Linked DNA regions of Homo sapiens. The protein of the gene in region 2 interacts with the protein of the main gene of each other region in a biochemical or structural test. Each region holds a gene or a part of one and is shown on either strand. Other genes may lie near its edges.

Region 1 (3,520 bases), on a different chromosome or scaffold from region 2:
GGGGCTGAAGGTGGTTGTCCATTAGAAGGAGCATGCACCCTCCAGGTGAACAGTCCAACTGGCACTGAGGCCACACCTACATTTCCACTGATCATCACACCTGAACTTTGTCTTTTGTTAAAGAGGAACACGAAGCATTTCTTATGCCTAGTCAAATTTGCTGATTGTTATTTGTCCTGCCTGTATGGGCTGCTACAGTCACATATATCACATGTTCTAAAGTAGTAGAAACCTAAAAGTTAACCAATTTCCCCCAAGTGACCTAATAATAGGTTTAAGAATAGGGTCAAAATAGTGAACTTACTCATAAATAGCTTTAGCATCCTCAGCACTTTTGTCCTTAAAATCAAGAAGCTCCTGAAGACTCTGGATATACCTAAAATGCAGATCAATAGGATAAGTTTGTTCTTTTATATTCTGAAAGTTCAATATCATGAAAATTAGCTCAAAAGCTATTTTTAGCATTTTATAATTTTTAATTTAGAATACTGCTATAAATTATGGTTGAAGTATAATTTTTACACCCATGCACATTCAAGCAAAGTGCTGGGAATGAATGGTAGAAGGTGCACATTTTCTCCTAAAAGCAAAGGTCAAATTTAAGAATTTTAAGATTTTCCGAGTTCTACATTCTAAAATGGCTTTTAATTTTTTTTTAATTTACCACTGTACATTACAGTATATATACTGATTATGCTGAGATCTGTCACCAGTAACTATGTGATCTTGGGCAAATGACTTAATTTGTCTTATTATCAGTAAAAGGAGGACAGCCTCTCTTGCTCTAAGACTGTATCTTAAATATCTGTGCTTTAAAACCTTAATTTTACATATTTATGTCCAACTAACAAGTATTTATTGAAAGCCTATAATCTACATGGTTCTTTTAAACTGAACAAAAAACACAAAAGTCATAAAAATGTACATTTTAAATTTATCTAACAATTCGAAGTATCAAAGCATCTGTTAAGGAATGAGCAAAATAGAGAAGGCCAAATGATTTTCTGATGGTCTTGCAGGCAAGTACAATGGCACTGCGGGGCCAGAGCTAAAAATAACTTGCTACCACTGAATTACTTTCTTCGACAGTGTAAGGGATCTGCTCCACTTGGCTGTAAGCACTTTATCTGCAACTGTCCTAACTTAGCAGGCATCTAGGAGCAATGGAAGTGCTTTAAAAACCTGTAATTCCATCTGTTGGTTTGGAAAGCTGTTTCTGACAAGCAATATGTCTTACTGCATTCCAAAGTTAAGGGATTCTGATAGCAGCTGCTGCTTTGCTTTAACCCTTAATTTCCTCTTAATTGGCAAGAACAACTACGCTCTCCATCCAAGAGATATTTGAGTACCTACAACAGGCACCGATCAGACCTCATGACTGATAAGCTTCAAAAAGCAGCATATTCTACTTCTAATGAAGAATTTTTTAAAAACAGGAAAAATCTTCCATGGAATATTATATTTTCTCCATTATATCCCATCATAATTACTAAACAAATGCTTCCCATTTAATCCACACTTATAACTATTCCATACTTGGACTAGATAGCATCTGATTATCATATATATAGCAGTCATATTTTGCTTTTTTAAATTGCGATTAGATCAACTTCTCCCATACGCTATAATGCTTACAAAAAGAAAACTTGAATCTCCATGAATCATAACTGGGAAATGCCCTGCAGCTAAACCTTTTCCATTTAAGACTTAACTCTGGGCAACTCATTTGTTTGAAGCATACAGTGCTTAAAAGAACAACACTTTTAAATCAGTAACATTAATGAAGGCTGTATATAGGTGGCTCCATGAGTGTATACCCTTAACATCTCTACTTATCTTTGGGAAGAGATCACACTTTTTCTACACAATTCCAAAAACTTCTAATTGTTTTAAAACAGAAAAATAAACATTTTAACTTTTGTAATTTATAAAAAGATACCCTTCAATAAACACAGTTTATTAAAAATACATATATCCTTTCATATATTTCATCATTCTGACTATAGCACGGTATAGCAGAGATGGACAAATGGGGGTTTGAATCCCAACTCCACTATCAATGGTACTGTCTTACGCAAAAGATTTAACCTTTATGTGCCTCAGCATCCTCATCTGTACAGAGTTAACCTGCCAGGTGCGGTGGCTCATGTCTGTAATACCAACACTTTGTGAAGCCAAGGTGAGAGGACTGCTTGAGCCCAGGAGTTCACAACCTGCCTGGGCAAAAAAGTGAGACCCCCATCTCTACAAAAAAATAAAAGAATTGGTCAGGTATGGTGGCGCATGGCTGTGGTCCCAGCTGCTCGGGAGGCAGCTGCCTTAGCAGGAGAATCTCTTGACCCCAGGAGGTCAAGACTGCAGTGAGCCATGATCACACTACTGCACTCTAGCCTGGGTGATGGAGACCCTGTCTCTAAAAAGAAAATAAATTAATTTAAAAAATAATAAACAGGCTAGACACAATGGCTCATGCCCATAATCCCTGCACTTTGAGAGGCCCAGGTGGGCAAATACCTTGACCTCCGGAGTTTGAGGCCAGCGTAGGCAACATGGAAAAACCCCATCTCTGCTAAAAAATACAAAAATTAGCTGGGTGTGGCATGCACTTGTGGTCCCAGCTACTCAGGAGGCCGAGGTGGGAGGATCACCTGAGCCAGGGAGGTGGAGGTTGCAGTGAGCTGAGCTGTGATCACCACTGCACTCCAACCTGGGTGACAGAGTAAGAACCTGTCTCAAAAAAATAAGTAGGCCAGGAGTGGTGGCTCATGCCTGTAATCCCAGCACTTTGGGAAGCCAAGGTGGGAGGATCACCTGAGGTCAGGAGCTTGAGACCAGCCTGGCCAACATGGTGAAACCTCTATTTCTACTAAAAATACAAAAATTAGCCAGGCATGGTGGCAGGTGCCTGTAATCCCAGCTACTCTGGAGGCTGAGGCAGGAGAATCACTTGAACCCAGGAGGCAGAGGTTGCAGTGAGCCAAGATCATGCCATTGCACTCCAGCCTGGGCAACAGAGCAAGATTCCATTTCAAAAACAAAAAGTAAATAAAAATAATAACAATGAATAAAATGGAGAGAATCATACCCACTGTGCAAGGTTGTTGAAGGGATTAAAGGCAATATACATAAATACCCAGTCATCAACAAATTGCAGACATTTTTTCTTATAATATCCTTGAAGATATACTAACATAAATCCTAAATTTAGCATCTGTATTTCAGTGCAGTTTTGACTGGCTTTCTCAAAATCAAGAAGTTGTGGAGTCCACGATTCAGGGCACAAGCCCAAATACATTGCCCCCACCTGCCCCCAGCCAAAAAAAGAATACTGCTACTACCTTAAGACTCTGGTCGGGCACGGTGGCTCACGTCTGTAATCCCAGCACTTTGGGAGGCCAAGGTGGGTGGATCACGAGTTCAGGAGACCGAGATCATCCTGGCCAACATGGTGAAACCCTGTCTCTACTAAAAATACAAAAATTAGCTGGGCGTGGTGGCACGTGCCTGTAATCCCAGTTAC
Region 2 (3,520 bases):
CTAAATCATCCTTTAGCCTTCTTTCTTTCAAGCTAAATGACTCTGGCCCTTTAATCTTTCCTCGTAGGACCTGTTCACCATGCCTTTTATGTTCTTTCCCCTCTTTCTCTCTCTCTCTCTCTCTCTCTCTCTCTCTCTCTTTCTAAGAGAAGGGGTCTCCACTAGGAGCAATGGCTCACACCTGTAATCCCAGCACTTTGGGAGGCTTAAGAGGGCAGATTGCTTAAGCCAAGGAGTTTGAGACCAGCCTGGGCAACATAGAAAGACCCTGTTTTCAAAAATTAGCTGGGCATGGTAGTGCATGCCTGTGGTCCCAGCTATTCAGGAGACTGAGGTGGTGAAGCTTGTGAGCCAAGATTGCACTACTGCACTCCAGCTGGGCAACAAAGCAAGACTCTGTATCAAAAAAAAAAAAAAAAAAAAAAAAAAAAAAAAGCAGGGGTGGTTCTTGCTCTGTCACTCAGGCTGGAGTGTAGTGGCAAGATCACAGCTCACTGCAGCCTCAGACTACTGGGCTCAAGAGATCTTTCTGCCTCAGCCCCACAAGTAGCTGGGACCATAGGCACAAACCACAACACTCAACGAATTTTTGCATTTTCTTGTAGAGGCAGGGTCTCACTATATTTCCCAAGCTGGTTTCAAACTCCTGGACTCACGTGATCCTCCCACCTCAGCCTCCCAAAGTGCTGAGATTACAGGCATGAGCCATCATATGCCTGGCCAATCTTTCTCTTTTTTTTCCTCTGTCTTCTTCCAATAACCACAAGTTAGTATGGTATTCCAAGAAAGGGCTAATCAGAGTGGAGAGGAAGACCTGCTTTCCAGCTGGGTTGTAAAAATCCTTTGGGTCCATTCTGGATCCCATGATGCTGCTGCTATGCTGGTGACAGTGAAGGCAGTGATAACACCACAATCAGGGACATCTCTAATGGTTATATAGGTTGTATGCTGGATGACGGTGTCCAGTTGGTAAGGGATAGGGGCAAGCTGGAACCGAGCCCTGCACCCTGCCCAGAAGGAGGGGCTGCCATTTTCATATTCACACAGACTCTGCCTAGATTAGGGCAACCCTCACAATCATGAATAGAAACCATAGGTGGTGCCAGAGATCTCACCATGGTAGTGGAGGCAGAGTAATGATTGTCACTACCAACATGACACTGCCCGTCATTAGGCTGGACAATGCCTGCCAGCCTTCCGTCCAATGCTATATGAGTCTTGGCATCAGTGGTAAACACCAGCAAGTGGGATGCATCATTCCTCCAGCCAATCTTTTCCTGTTAAAAGAAAACAAAAAACAAAGGCAGAGGAGACAAAACAAATTCAGCCATGTCACTGGTAGAGAACAGAGACCCAAGGTGCTCCCTGGCTAAAGGGCTGGACAGCTTATTTTTCTTCAAAACAAGGGTCTCAGTCCCAGTCCTTGGAACCGAAGCTGAAGCTTTCCAGTTCAGGAGTTTCATTCTCTTCAGAAAACAGTCTCATAGCTGATTAGTTCAAGCAGCTGAATGAGATCTTCTTAAACTCCAAACTTAACTCTTCTAATGACAGTCACATTGCTCATCTAGAAACTGACGTGCATCCACAGAGCTGATCTGGGCTAGAAGAAATCTCATCTGAACATCTGCCTACTTTGCTGAGGTTAAGTTAACTCAGCCTTAACTCTGAAGTAACTCTGAAGATGGGAAGATGCTCTCCCCTGGGAACATCTGAGACCACTGAGGTTCAAAGAAATGTCAGCTCAGGCCAGGGAGTGGATCTAAGCCAAGGCTGAATATCAGGAGCAACTTACTACTCATAACTGCAGGAAGCCCTGCTTAGTTCTCATCTCATTTTACACCAGAAATCCCCAGAGTTCAGTCACTTCCTTTCCCATTTTGATCTATGCCAGCCACACCTGGCACTCCAAGTCCTCCAAACTCACATCACAGACTGTAGCCTGCATGATGGCATCAAAGCCACCCTCTGGGGCATCTCGGTTCCGTGACACACTCTGCTTCTTCACTTCCTCATTGAAGCGGGTCACCTGGTCAGTTAGCGTCAGCACGTGTTTGTAGCCAAACATGGGCAAGCAGGTGGTCTTCATACTGGGGAGGGATGGGAGATAATTTAAGCAGACACCTTCATGGAAAAGGCAGCATGGGAATTGGGAGGAAAGAGAGGGGACAAATATAGATAGTGGTATGCCAAGGCCAGTTCCATACAACCACAGTTACCCAGACAGTTCAGACTCCAAAATCCTCAAATTATCTGAAGCTCCCCATCAACATTACCCCCATCCAGCTAACCTAGAAGATAAGAGATTGAGCTGGAAACAAGACTCCCTGAGCTTAGATCCCAGGTGCCCTCTGTACTAGTCATGGGACCTTTGGCAAGCCTCTCAATCCAACCTATGAAAGAGGGGCCAGGATAGCACATATCCCATAAGAGTTGTGAGACTTAAGTAAGTTCATACACACAAAGCACTTAGACCAGAGCGAGGCTCGAGTTGCTATTACTATCACCTTATACTTAACACTTTCCTAAAGTAACAATAAAGCAAAAGTCCATCAGTAAGTTAAGGTCCCTGAACCATCAATAAATTGATAGATCATGCAAGACAGGAGCATTTCTGCCCCCAGTCAAAATAGTGTGTTTAATTAATAGCTGATGTCTTGCCTGGGAACCTTACAACCCAGATAGAAGGTTGAATGCCACATCATATAACTTCAAAACTTTTTCTTTTTTTTTTAGAGACAGTTGTGCTCCATTGTCCAGGTTGGAGTGCAGTGGCACAATCATGGCTCACTGCAGCCTCAACCTCCCAGGCTCAATCAATCCTCCCACCTCAGCCTCCCTGTAGTCCTGGGGACTGCAGGCATGCGCCATCACACATAGCTAATTTTTTTGTAATTTTTGTAGAGATGGGGGTCTCACTATGTTGCCTAGGCTGAACTCAAACTCCTAGGCTCAAGTGATCCTCCCATCTTGGCCTCCCAAAGTGCTGGGATTACAGAAGTGAGTCACCCCACCTGGCCGTAACTTTGAAAACTAAAAAGTAAATTCACACCTTTTCAGGCTCAGCAACCAGCATTGTAAGTTATTCTAATACATGGATTTGCACAGTCTCCACCGATTAAATAAATAAGCCATTCAGTTTTAAGCCAAAGTGTCAAACAGAGGCACAAGTTATCCATTTACAGACTATAAAAGTGTCCAACAAATGTCATTTCCACTCTTTTATATTCCTTAGCACTTCATTTCTTCTGTTTTCACCCTGCAGGATGCACGGCCTTGATGAAGACAATAATGCCAACAATGGAATCGATCCTTCTGTAATCGTAATTTCTCGGTTTCCTTATCCATAAATTTCTTTCTACTTTTGACGTCATTTCCCTCCCATTCTCTCTTGCCTTCTATTTATTTGTTACCAAGACTGAGAAGCTGATGAATTTTCTTTCTAGGTTCTCCAAACAGCCTTAGGCTCCATTGACACAACACTCCAGATCCACAAGCTAGCCCATTTGCCAAACAGGGAGAC
Region 3 (3,520 bases), on a different chromosome or scaffold from region 2:
TTTAAAATTATTTTATTTGGATATCTGAAGATCTGTATATTATGTCATCTTCTGGTATATTACAAATGGTAAATAGATGATACATTGATAGATAATGACAGATAGAAAGAGAGTTACATGTGGAAATGTTTGATACCATACGGTACTTTTAAATTTTATCAGTTCATTCTGCTAGTAAACCAGTATCACTTCAATTACCCTGAAAATACTATTTGTCAATGTGTTATCAATATTGGAAAAGCAGAATAGCAGCCAAAGTAAAACAGAGGTCAATCACTATTTTAATAATAAAGTGTTAGTATATGACTTACAATAATATCTATCTCCATATTGACTTTTTAAGGATCCTTACATATTATAAGGTTTCTTGATTTTCTTTCTTCCTCAGATAAAATTTCCCACACCTGTTGAGCTTCAAACTTCTTAATAAAAATGAGACTTTATTTACTTATGTAGTGATGGGAATTATCATAAGCTAACGTCACACAAAAGAATGATTAAATAATTAAAGTATTATTCACCATATGCTTTTTATACGAAAGATTTTGATGAATTTTCTTATTTTGAAATAGAAAAGCATATCAAGGAAAGAAAAATCACTACATTTTGAGGTATGTCTTTTTTTCTATCTATACATTTTTAAAAATGATTTTAATGATAATATGAATATATATTTATGCCATATAATTTTCTTATGTAAGTAATATATTACATATAGTTTTCTATCTTCCTCTTTTCATCTTTGCAGACCCTGATTATTTTAAATTCCCACAAAACTAATTTATTATGACTATATAAAATGCTATTAATTTTTATGATTGTTTCCATCGTAAAAATGCATTTTACGTTGATTTGAAAAAAAATCGTTCAGCATTTTAAAATTATGAATAATGTTGACTAGGTATTTTTATTCGCAGAGATTGAACACATTCATACTTATTTTTTCATCAGAATAGATTGCTTTAAAGTTTTGATATCAAACAGAAATAAAAGTATTAATAACAAGCTACCCTTTAAAGAGACTGCTAGGCCATAGTTACCTCTGAACTAACTCTGGACTGCCAACAATTTACAGTGCTTGTTTTATCACACTTTCAGTTGTATTGATTGATTATTAGTTTAAAAAATAATCTGCTAGATTAAAATAGCATTACAGTTCTTTATTTGATTTATATGTTTACTTTGATTAGACAGAACATGTCTACATATGTGTAAGCCACTTGTGGTCTTCTTTTGTGAACTAGTGCTTTTTTATTTATCTGTTGATTCTTTAGTTTCCTAGCCATTTGTCTAATTGCTTTAATTATGTATATGTAATGTATTTATATATTTTTAGACAGTAAATTTTAAAAAATTGGATACTATATGTCCGTATTTTTCTTTTCCTTATAAAATTTTCTTTTCAATTCAAAAGTCTGATGAATATTCAATAATATTTTAAATATTTTAAAATGTTGATTACTTCTGAAATTTATCTCGGCATTTGCTGTAAGTTTCAGCAGTACATTGATCTTCTCCCAGAGTACTAGCTAGCTGACTTAACACCACTCATACATGATTCTTTCATCATTCATGAACTTGCCATGCTTGTTTTTTAATGTATTAAATTATTATAGCTCACATGTTACAGTGTGGGCTATCAATACTATTCCACTTATTTTCCTGTTGGTGACATGTACTGGACAGTTTAAATTATGTCAAATCAAATAGCTACATTATTGATTTCAAATAGATGTTTAATTTTCTAACTGCTTATACTGAAATATGGTCTAACATTTCTGCATAAATGCTTACATGCATGAGATGTTTCTGTGATTTCAAACTTAATAATTCGATTCTCTTAAAAATAGCTTAGTCACAATACTCTGTAAATGAAAGATGAAAACTAAATGTCTCACTAGGCTTATTAACTCAATATGGTGTTCACAACCCATTGTACTATATTAAGTTTTTATATGATATGCAAAGATAGCTAAATGTCTGCATTAGATTCATTAGGCTAGCACGATTAATAATAAAAGCCATCATAGACTTTAGATGAAGAAAATATTATTTTACTTTTGTTAAAGTGACCTTGCAAGTAAATATTGGACTAAAAGAAACAATCATGGCCAAGTATGGTGGCTCATGCCTGTGGTCCAAGCACTTTGGGAGGTCTAAGTGGGTAGATCGCTTGAGCCCAGCAGTTCAAGCCCAGTCTGGACAACATGATGAAACCCTGTTTTTAACAAAAAATACAAAAATTAGCCACGCGTGGTAGTGCACACTTGTAGTCTCAGCTACTCAGGAAGCTGAGGAGGGAAGATTGCTTGAGCCCGGGCGGTGGAGGTTGCAGTGAGCCAAGATCATGCCACTGCACTCCAGCTTGGGTAGGGCGATAGAGTGAGACTCTGCCTCAAAAAAAAAAAGAAAAGAAAGGAAACAATGAAGTGAACAATGCAATAGTGACTAAGTCACTGAAAAATAATCTTAAAATGTGGTTTATAAAACCTCTCTAAACATAACTAATTATCAGATATACCCATATGAAGCTGTTGTTTGAATTTTTATTAAATAAGGCATGCAAATTTTAAGGTTTCAGCTTTAAAAATTTGTAAGTTGTTTAAAATTATTATAAAAATAATATACCAACCATCTCTGGCGCTACCCACCATGAAAGCAGTAAAGAATTTAAAAAGACATTAAGAAAATATTAGAAACAGCAAAAGCAAAAACACCACGGTTTAACATTGAGTGTCACCATCACTCAATCATCCCAATACATTGTGTCTCACACTTGGTTTCAACAAAATCTGGAAATAGAGGCTTATCCTTAAAACTCCATAATTTTTTTTCCAATTTTGGGAAAATCTAAAAAATTTTTAGAGAAGTACTCTGTATGACCTGTGCAACCCTTGAGAATAAATACTACCACATAAATATTTCTTTGTTACTACAAAAGCATTAGTACCAGATAGTACATGTCCAATGGGTAAAACTAATGTAAAAGAAAAGGAATTGATTTCATATGAAATACAGCATTCTTGCTAAATTATCATGCGCCATTTGAAAGTTTCATAGCGTTTGAAATATAGAAAAGAACTAGGAAATCTGTGCCATCAGATAGAATACATGTTGAAATCAATAGAAATTTGATAAGGTGGTTTTAGCTTTAACCAAATAAGATCATCCGTCCTGTATTGGTGTTGCAATTTGGCTTTCATTTAATTTATAATTTATTGAATTCATAATTTTATAAAAACCATAAGGACAAGTTGTTTATAACATTTTTGTCAATATTTAAAAATTGTAAGTTAATACTAAGGATCTAAAACAATTTTTATGTAAAAGGGGATTAAGAATCATTCAACTTGAGAAACACTGTTTTAATAGATTCTTTGAAAACCTCAAGACATATGTTAAGTAATTCAACTTTTAAATTCAGGCATGTTATTACATCTAGAACAATAATGAATTCATGTACTACCTAGAAAATAAGATAGCTACACAGCTGCAGTCAAAAATGAGTAAAAGGGCATTT
Region 4 (3,520 bases), on a different chromosome or scaffold from region 2:
AACCTAGTGAGGGCACTGGTGAAGTTTCATTTGCAGAGAGTTTTCTCTTGAGGACTTACAGCTTCTTGTATTTCACACCGGAAGACGTGTATTCTGAAGAGCTCTGCATTGTAATGACTTTCAGTGAAAGCAAAACAGTCACTCTCAGGAGTTCCATCATGCCCTCTGACACAGAAGAGGATTTTGTAGATAGGGTAGTTTGCTATTTCAGTGTTTGTCTGAGGATCTAAGAGTCTGTTCAGAGAAAAAGATACAGAGAGATTACAGGAATTATGAACAATCTGCACTACGTTTAGATTAAGATGTGAGACTCATTCTTTCTAGTAAGAAGATCATATATTTGGTATGCTGATATTAACCTTAAATTTTAATAAGTAACTCATATGTGAATTCCGGAAGCTATTGATTACGTAATTCCATAGTACTAAAAACCATATAGTATCATGTTTTAGGGAGGCAAACAGAAAGGTATAAACAATATCAATAAGCACATTTCTTATACAGTCTGCTACAAAATAAAGACGATTAATACGTAAATTAGACTACCAAAATACATCATTGAAGCTGTGCTTTTTTTTTTTTTTTTTTGAGACAAGTTTCGCTCTTGTTGCCCAGGCTGGAGTGCAATGGCGCAATCTCAGCTCACCGCAACCTCCGCCTCCTGGGTTCAAGTGATTCTCCTGCCTCAGCCTCCCAAGTAGCTGGGATTACAGGGATGTGCCACCATGCCCGGCTAATTTTTTGTATTTTTAGTAGAGACAGGGCAGGTTAGCCAGAATGGTCTCAATCTTCCGACCTCAGGTGATCCGCCCACCTAGGCCTCCCAAAGTGCTGGGATTACAGGCATAAGCCACCACACCTGGGCAAAGCTGTGCTTCTAATTATCTCCTTTAAAAATGACCTAATCTGTTATGAAAAAATAAAAAACAAAAAACTGATGCTTTTTCTCAGACTGAAACAAGTTTTTTTTTGATTCATGGAAAATAAGGACAGAAATTATACAAAATGTTAACTCCTCAAAAAAAAAAAAATCATGAATAAAAGCAAAAGGATGCCATTCAGTAAAAAATCAAAGGGATAGCATTCATTCAAAAATCTACTTATTCAACAAATATTTATGTGATACCTACAACATTCCAGACTCTGATCAGGGCAGTAAGGCACAACTATGGAAGGTCTAAAAAGAAACTATGCAATTTCAACACTATGTGGGTAGAGCCATTAATGGGAAAGCCTAGAAGGCCTTGCTCATCACGGAAATACCTAGGAAGAGGATCTAACACAGGTTTGAAAGCACTTTTATGAAAACTCTAAAAATGTGGGGTAAAACCGACTAGCTTTCTAACTTCTTTTATAGAATTAAAAATATATTAAAGTCTAACTTCAGTTAGAGGAATGAGTATTGACTAAGAAACATATAGAAATGAGTGCTAAACACATTTTATTAATAGTTTATCATTAATAAATAGAATTTGTGAGTCTTTGCAAAATAGTTATTTAAATACTTAAGGGGAAAAATTACATATACAGATTATTTTACTACAATCAACACACAGCTATTACTCTGTCACCATGAAAGTCCAAAATACTTCTGAGGATACTGAGAAATGGATATTCTATATACTGCTGATAAAAGTATAAACTAGATCAATATTTCTAGATGGCTAGTTGGCAATGTTATTAGAAGCAATAAAAATAGACAAACTCAATAAGTTTACTTCTAGGAATTTATCCTAAGGAAATCAACAGAAGTCTAAAAAGATTGAGCTCAAAGATACCTATTTATAAAACACTGATATTCCCATATAATTAAAACTAGCTATCATCATTCATGCTTTTTTCTCTGAAAGATAAAAGCCTTAAAATGTCTAATATAAGAGATGGGTTATTTATTTATAACCCATTCATATGCCATCATAAATTAAAATTTTTAATAATATTTACTGGCATGAAAAGAGGTTTACGATATAAAACTAAGTACAAGATGGTATGTACAGGTCCATTGCTGTTAAAAAAAAAAGTTGATTCTAACAGTTGTAAATTATGTATGTATATATATGCAGGTATATTTACATATACCTAGACATATACATATACCAATATGCAAAGAAGATCTTAATAAGCCAAGATGTTAACTGTATTTATTAGTGGTAGAGTAGAATTAAGGCTATTTTTATGTGGCAATTTTTTTAAATAAGCATGTATCTTTGGTAATAGGGAAAAAAAATTTATTTTACCTGCATTCATCTGACTTATTGAGCAACAGTATATTTAGCTGGTTGATACAGACATCTGATTAGCTATCTGCAATTGTTATTTGTTCTATTAGTATAAACAGCTAGAGGCTTCTCTGTGCCTCAGTTTTCTCATCTTTTTTTTTCATTTTGCTTTGTTGAGACAGGGTCTCACTTTGTCACTCAGTCTGGAGTGAAGTGGCATGATCACAGCTCACTGAAGCCTTGAACTCCCAGGCTCAGGTGATCCTCCCATTTCAGCCTCCTGAGTAGCTGGGACTATAGGTGTGTATGACCATGCGTGGCTAATTTTTGTATGTTTTGTACAGACAGGGTTTCACCATGTTGCCCAGGCTGCCCAGGCTGGTCTCGAACCCCTGAACTTAAGTGATCAACCCGTCTCAGCCTCCCAAAATGCTGGGATTACAGGCATGAACCACTGCACCTAGCCAGTTTTCTCATCATAAAAATTAAGGGGTGTGCTGGTATAGTTAATATTTAATAATAAATTTTTGTAACTTTCAAACTCAACATGAAACTCCATTTTGAAATAATGTGTCAAGCTTGTATTTTCATCAAAGGAACATGGAAAATATAATCTTTTAGGCTGACTCATGTCAATATATTTCATTTATCCCCAAAACATTAAATGCCTAATGTACTACACATGATCGGGAAGAGTACGAAAAACTATTACAAATAAGTAACCATTTTTCACAAAGGTCACAGTCCTTGGGAGACATGAGTGCCAGGTAAATGAAACGTTACACAAGTAAAATAACTATTAATATGTATTTTATTCACTATTGCTTCTTTCTGAAGCAACAGGTCAGAGATCTGATGTAAATATCGAAAGATTTCAACAAACCAGTCTCACCTCACAATTCCTTCAGACACATTCGGCACTGAAAGGGTAACATCTAGTGAAATCTGACACTGGCTTCTTAAGATGGACATCATCCTTAAGGCTTCCACTTCACTCCTGGGAGCATTTACCGAGGCACAGCCTAAGTAAGTCAGTTTACTGAAAACTACGCTGTCCTCATCGGCCACTGGTGTGAAAGGACTTGAAGCTTCAGAATCTGAAAGAAACAATGAATAAGGAAGTGATTACTTTCACTTTGATATTTTGTTGATACGATTAGCAAGTAAAAATCTGCAAGTAACATTTAAGGTCTAAAATTAAGTATTAATGAGACAATATGCCATACCCTAAAAGAAATGCCCATGAAAACCAGAAATCCCACACTAGAACTCTGTCAGAAACACCAAGATTTTTAGGTACA
Region 5 (3,520 bases), on a different chromosome or scaffold from region 2:
GTCCACTGTGTGATGTTAATCATCTCTGCGTGAGCAGTTCATCTCTCCGGTAAATTGTGTATCACAGTAAAAAATGATTTCTTGGTGTTCTCTTGTATTTTTCATCCTGTTTGGTACAATACCATAAACCTTGAATGAAAACGTGCCACTAGAGATGCCAGAAATGCTCCCAAGAAACAGAGAAAAGTCATGACATTATGAGAGATAAAGTTGAATTGCTTGGTATGTACCATAGATTGAGGTCTGCAGCTGCAGTTCCCAGCCCTGCCCCTCCATTCCCCCACCTTTTCAGAAAGAGGAGTCATCTGGTAAGCAAACAAAAACTTACAATATCAATAAGTACAATACAGTACTGGATTTTCTCTCCCTTATGGTTTTCCTAATAAAATTTTCTTTTCTGTAGTTTATTGTAAGAATACAATGTAATATACATATAATATACAAAATGTGTGTTAACAGACTGTGTTATCAGTAAGGCTTCCAGTCAACAGAAGGGTTACTAGTTAAGTTTTTGGGAAGTCAAAAATTATACAAAAATTTCTGACTGTGCAGGGGTCAGTGAGTCTAACCGCTGCACTATTGAAGGGTCAACTGTACTTGAAAAAAGTCACTTGTAGCAGGAAGAATAGCATGGGAAAAGATTCAAGACCACATAGTTAAGTCTCAGATTTCTAGCTGGTGCATACATCAACTGCCTCTTCTCAACATACACCCTGCAAATCCTTTATTCCAGATCCTTTTTGTGAAAAATCAAACTATTATTCCCTATGATAAGATCTAAAAGAACTGACAGATGTTACTCTATACTAACAATTCCATTTTCACAAAGAAGCATCTCTGAGTTAGTAAAAAAAAAAAAAAAAAAAAGAGGAAAATGAATTATGTACAATGTCTAGAAATAAATCTCAGCACACAGTACATGCTGTATTATATATTGGTTTCTAAGTCATTTCTCAACTGTTTACAGTAAGTAATTTTGCAGAACATGTAATAAAAATTTTAATAAAAACATTTTCAATTCTAAGCAATTTATAATCTATTAATTTAAAAATCACATTTACTTGTGCTGGTACAACTAGGAATCCATATGCAAAAAAAAAATTAATCTAGACACAGACCTTATACCTTTCATAAAAATTAACTCTAAATGGATCACATACCTAAATGTAAAATGCAAAACTATAAAACTTCTAGGAAAAACACAGGATAAAATCTATGTAGCCTTGGCAATGAGTTTTCAAATATAACACAAAAGCCTATCCATGAAATTGGTAAGTTGGCCTTATTAAAATTAAAGACATCTGTTCTGACAAAGACACTGTTAGGAAAATAAAAAGACAAACCAAACTGGGAGAAAATATTTGCAAAACACATATCTGATAAAGTGCCTGTATACAAAATGTATAAAGAACTCTTAAAATCAACAATAAGAAAACAACCCCATTAAAAAGTGGGCAAATGATCTGAACAGCCATCACACCACAGAAGATGTACAGATGAAAAGGGGTATGTGAAAAGATGTTAACATCATATGTCATTAGGAAATAGTAAATTAAAGTAACAATGACATATTACTACACACCTACTAGAATGGGTAAAATCCAAAAAAGCTGACAAAATCAAATGCTAGCAAAGATGTGGGGCAATAAGAACTCACATTCATTGCTGGTGAGAATGTAATAGTACAGCCACTTCGGAAAACAGTTTGGCAATTTCTTACAAAGCTAACCATAATCTTACCACAGGATCCAGCAATCGCACTTCTAGATATTTATCCAACGGATATAAGAACTTATGTCTACCCAAAAACCTGCATGTGAATATTCATAGCAGCTTCGTTCATACTTGCCAAAAACTGGAAGCAACCAAAATATCCTTCAATAGGTGAATAAACAAACCATGATATATCTGATAATGATAGAAAGAAATGAGCTATTAAACCTCAGGAAGACATGGATGAACCTTAAATGTGTATTGCTAAATGAAAGAAGCCAGTCTGGCAAGGCTGTATGATTCCAATTATACAACATCTGGAAAAGGCAAAAGTAAAGAGACAGTAAAAAGATACGTGGTTTTCTGGGAGAGGGGCTCACAGAGGTTATGAGTGAAGCCCAGGGGATTTGTAATGTGTTGAAATTATTCGGTATGATACTATGATCCTATAAGGATAGCTACATCAAATTAAGTATTTGTCAAAACCCAAAGAACTTCACAGGACAAAGAGTAAACTTTAATGTATGCAAACGTAAGCAAATCATTTAGAAGGTCAAGGAATCCCAAGGTGGAATGCAGATTGTAACAAAGAAATCTAACTGTATTATAAATGTGTGCTACAATCTCACTGAAAAGGATAGGAGGAAAGGTGCTTAGCTGACTAACTCTAGAAATGAGTAGAAGCTGTGAGACTAAAAGCAAAAGGAATAGTACATAAACACTGTACTCTTGATGCTAAAGTTGTTTCCCATGGGAGCACAGGTTAACAATTCCAATGCTGCTATACATCTATGATAGAAATGAATGATTAAGCAAATGTATGGCAGATGGTGCAAACCAGGTTTCTTCTCACTGTTGGAGTAAGTTTACATATAAACAAAGGGAGAAGGCTAGAATGATACCTGTGGTAATGAATTAGCATTACAGATAAAATGTAAATTCATAGTTAAACATGGATACAAACTGTTACATAAAAATATGTACAGATATGTTCATATACACACATGTATTTCTTGCTTTGTCACATGAGAGAACCTAGAAGCAATGATACCACAGTAGCAACAAGCACACCTAGCACCCAGATCTTGGTTTCTAACACCATTCCCCAACAAAATGATCCAGATTCCTTGGAGAAATGACTGATTCTAGGACTGTGGCAAGATGTATACAGATGAACCTAGAGCATCTCATAATACCAGAAAGTAAGGAAATGCTTCCAAAAAAACAAAATTCACATTGATGGTAGTATGTCAAAGAGGCACTGGAGTCAAGCTGTAACAAAGTAGCATTGTATTATAACCCAAAATATTTAGATAGATAGATAGATTTTATATTTATATAATATATATATATCCATGAGTCCAGAACAAAATAAATATGATTGAGTAAATAAATACATGGGGGAGAAGAGACAAATCTCCCACGGAGAAAAATATCCAAATAATTTATATAGATTTCTACCATCAAAGGGGGAAGCATAACTCTCTACTCCTTAAGTATAGGCTATACACAGTTCCTTCCTTCTAAGAGCACAGCATGAAAAAGGTGGAGAAAAGTGGAAAAATCTGATAAACACTATCTCAGCCAGGTGATAAAGATGAGTATCACAGTGACAAATCATACTGATAGTATATACCCTTGATATGAGATGAAAATGGCACGTTACCTCTGTGATCTTTCTACCAAAAACCTATAATCACAGTCTAATCATGAGAAAAAACATTAGATGAATTCCAATGCAAATGTATTCTACAAAATACCTGACCAGTACTCCTCAAACATCATCAAAAACAAGGAAGTCTAACAA

What was found.
Region 1: of the proteins of ITGB3 (region 2) and PDK1, one has a biochemical effect on the other in vitro, tested with the Homo sapiens proteins (one study listed by BioGRID).
Region 3: the proteins of ITGB3 (region 2) and GULP1 form a complex in vitro, tested with the Homo sapiens proteins (one study listed by IntAct).
Region 4: the proteins of ITGB3 (region 2) and RABGAP1 form a complex in vitro, tested with the Homo sapiens proteins (one study listed by IntAct).
Region 5: the proteins of ITGB3 (region 2) and EPS8 form a complex in vitro, tested with the Homo sapiens proteins (one study listed by IntAct).

Annotation. Positions count from the first base shown.
Region 1 is NC_000002.12:172,559,076-172,562,595, reverse strand, and holds part of PDK1 ([Pyruvate dehydrogenase (acetyl-transferring)] kinase isozyme 1, mitochondrial isoform 2 precursor), read right to left. Parts: intron 377-3,520; coding exon 305-376; intron 1-304. UniProt on the Homo sapiens protein: Kinase that plays a key role in regulation of glucose and fatty acid metabolism and homeostasis via phosphorylation of the pyruvate dehydrogenase subunits PDHA1 and PDHA2.
Region 2 is NC_000017.11:47,284,827-47,288,346, reverse strand, and holds part of ITGB3 (integrin beta-3 precursor), read right to left. Parts: intron 2,088-3,520; coding exon 1,925-2,087; intron 1,278-1,924; coding exon 1,116-1,277; intron 1-1,115. UniProt on the Homo sapiens protein: Integrin alpha-V/beta-3 (ITGAV:ITGB3) is a receptor for cytotactin, fibronectin, laminin, matrix metalloproteinase-2, osteopontin, osteomodulin, prothrombin, thrombospondin, vitronectin and von Willebrand factor.
Region 3 is NC_000002.12:188,588,863-188,592,382, reverse strand, and holds part of GULP1 (PTB domain-containing engulfment adapter protein 1), read right to left. Parts: exon of another isoform or gene 2,644-3,520; coding exon of another isoform or gene 2,633-2,643; intron 1-2,632. UniProt on the Homo sapiens protein: May function as an adapter protein. Required for efficient phagocytosis of apoptotic cells. Modulates cellular glycosphingolipid and cholesterol transport. May play a role in the internalization and endosomal trafficking of various LRP1 ligands, such as PSAP.
Region 4 is NC_000009.12:122,986,011-122,989,530, reverse strand, and holds part of RABGAP1 (rab GTPase-activating protein 1), read right to left. Parts: intron 3,317-3,520; coding exon 3,112-3,316; intron 235-3,111; coding exon 60-234; intron 1-59. UniProt on the Homo sapiens protein: May act as a GTPase-activating protein of RAB6A. May play a role in microtubule nucleation by centrosome. May participate in a RAB6A-mediated pathway involved in the metaphase-anaphase transition.
Region 5 is NC_000012.12:15,782,869-15,786,388, forward strand, and holds part of EPS8 (epidermal growth factor receptor kinase substrate 8), read right to left. Parts: intron 1-3,520. UniProt on the Homo sapiens protein: Signaling adapter that controls various cellular protrusions by regulating actin cytoskeleton dynamics and architecture. Depending on its association with other signal transducers, can regulate different processes.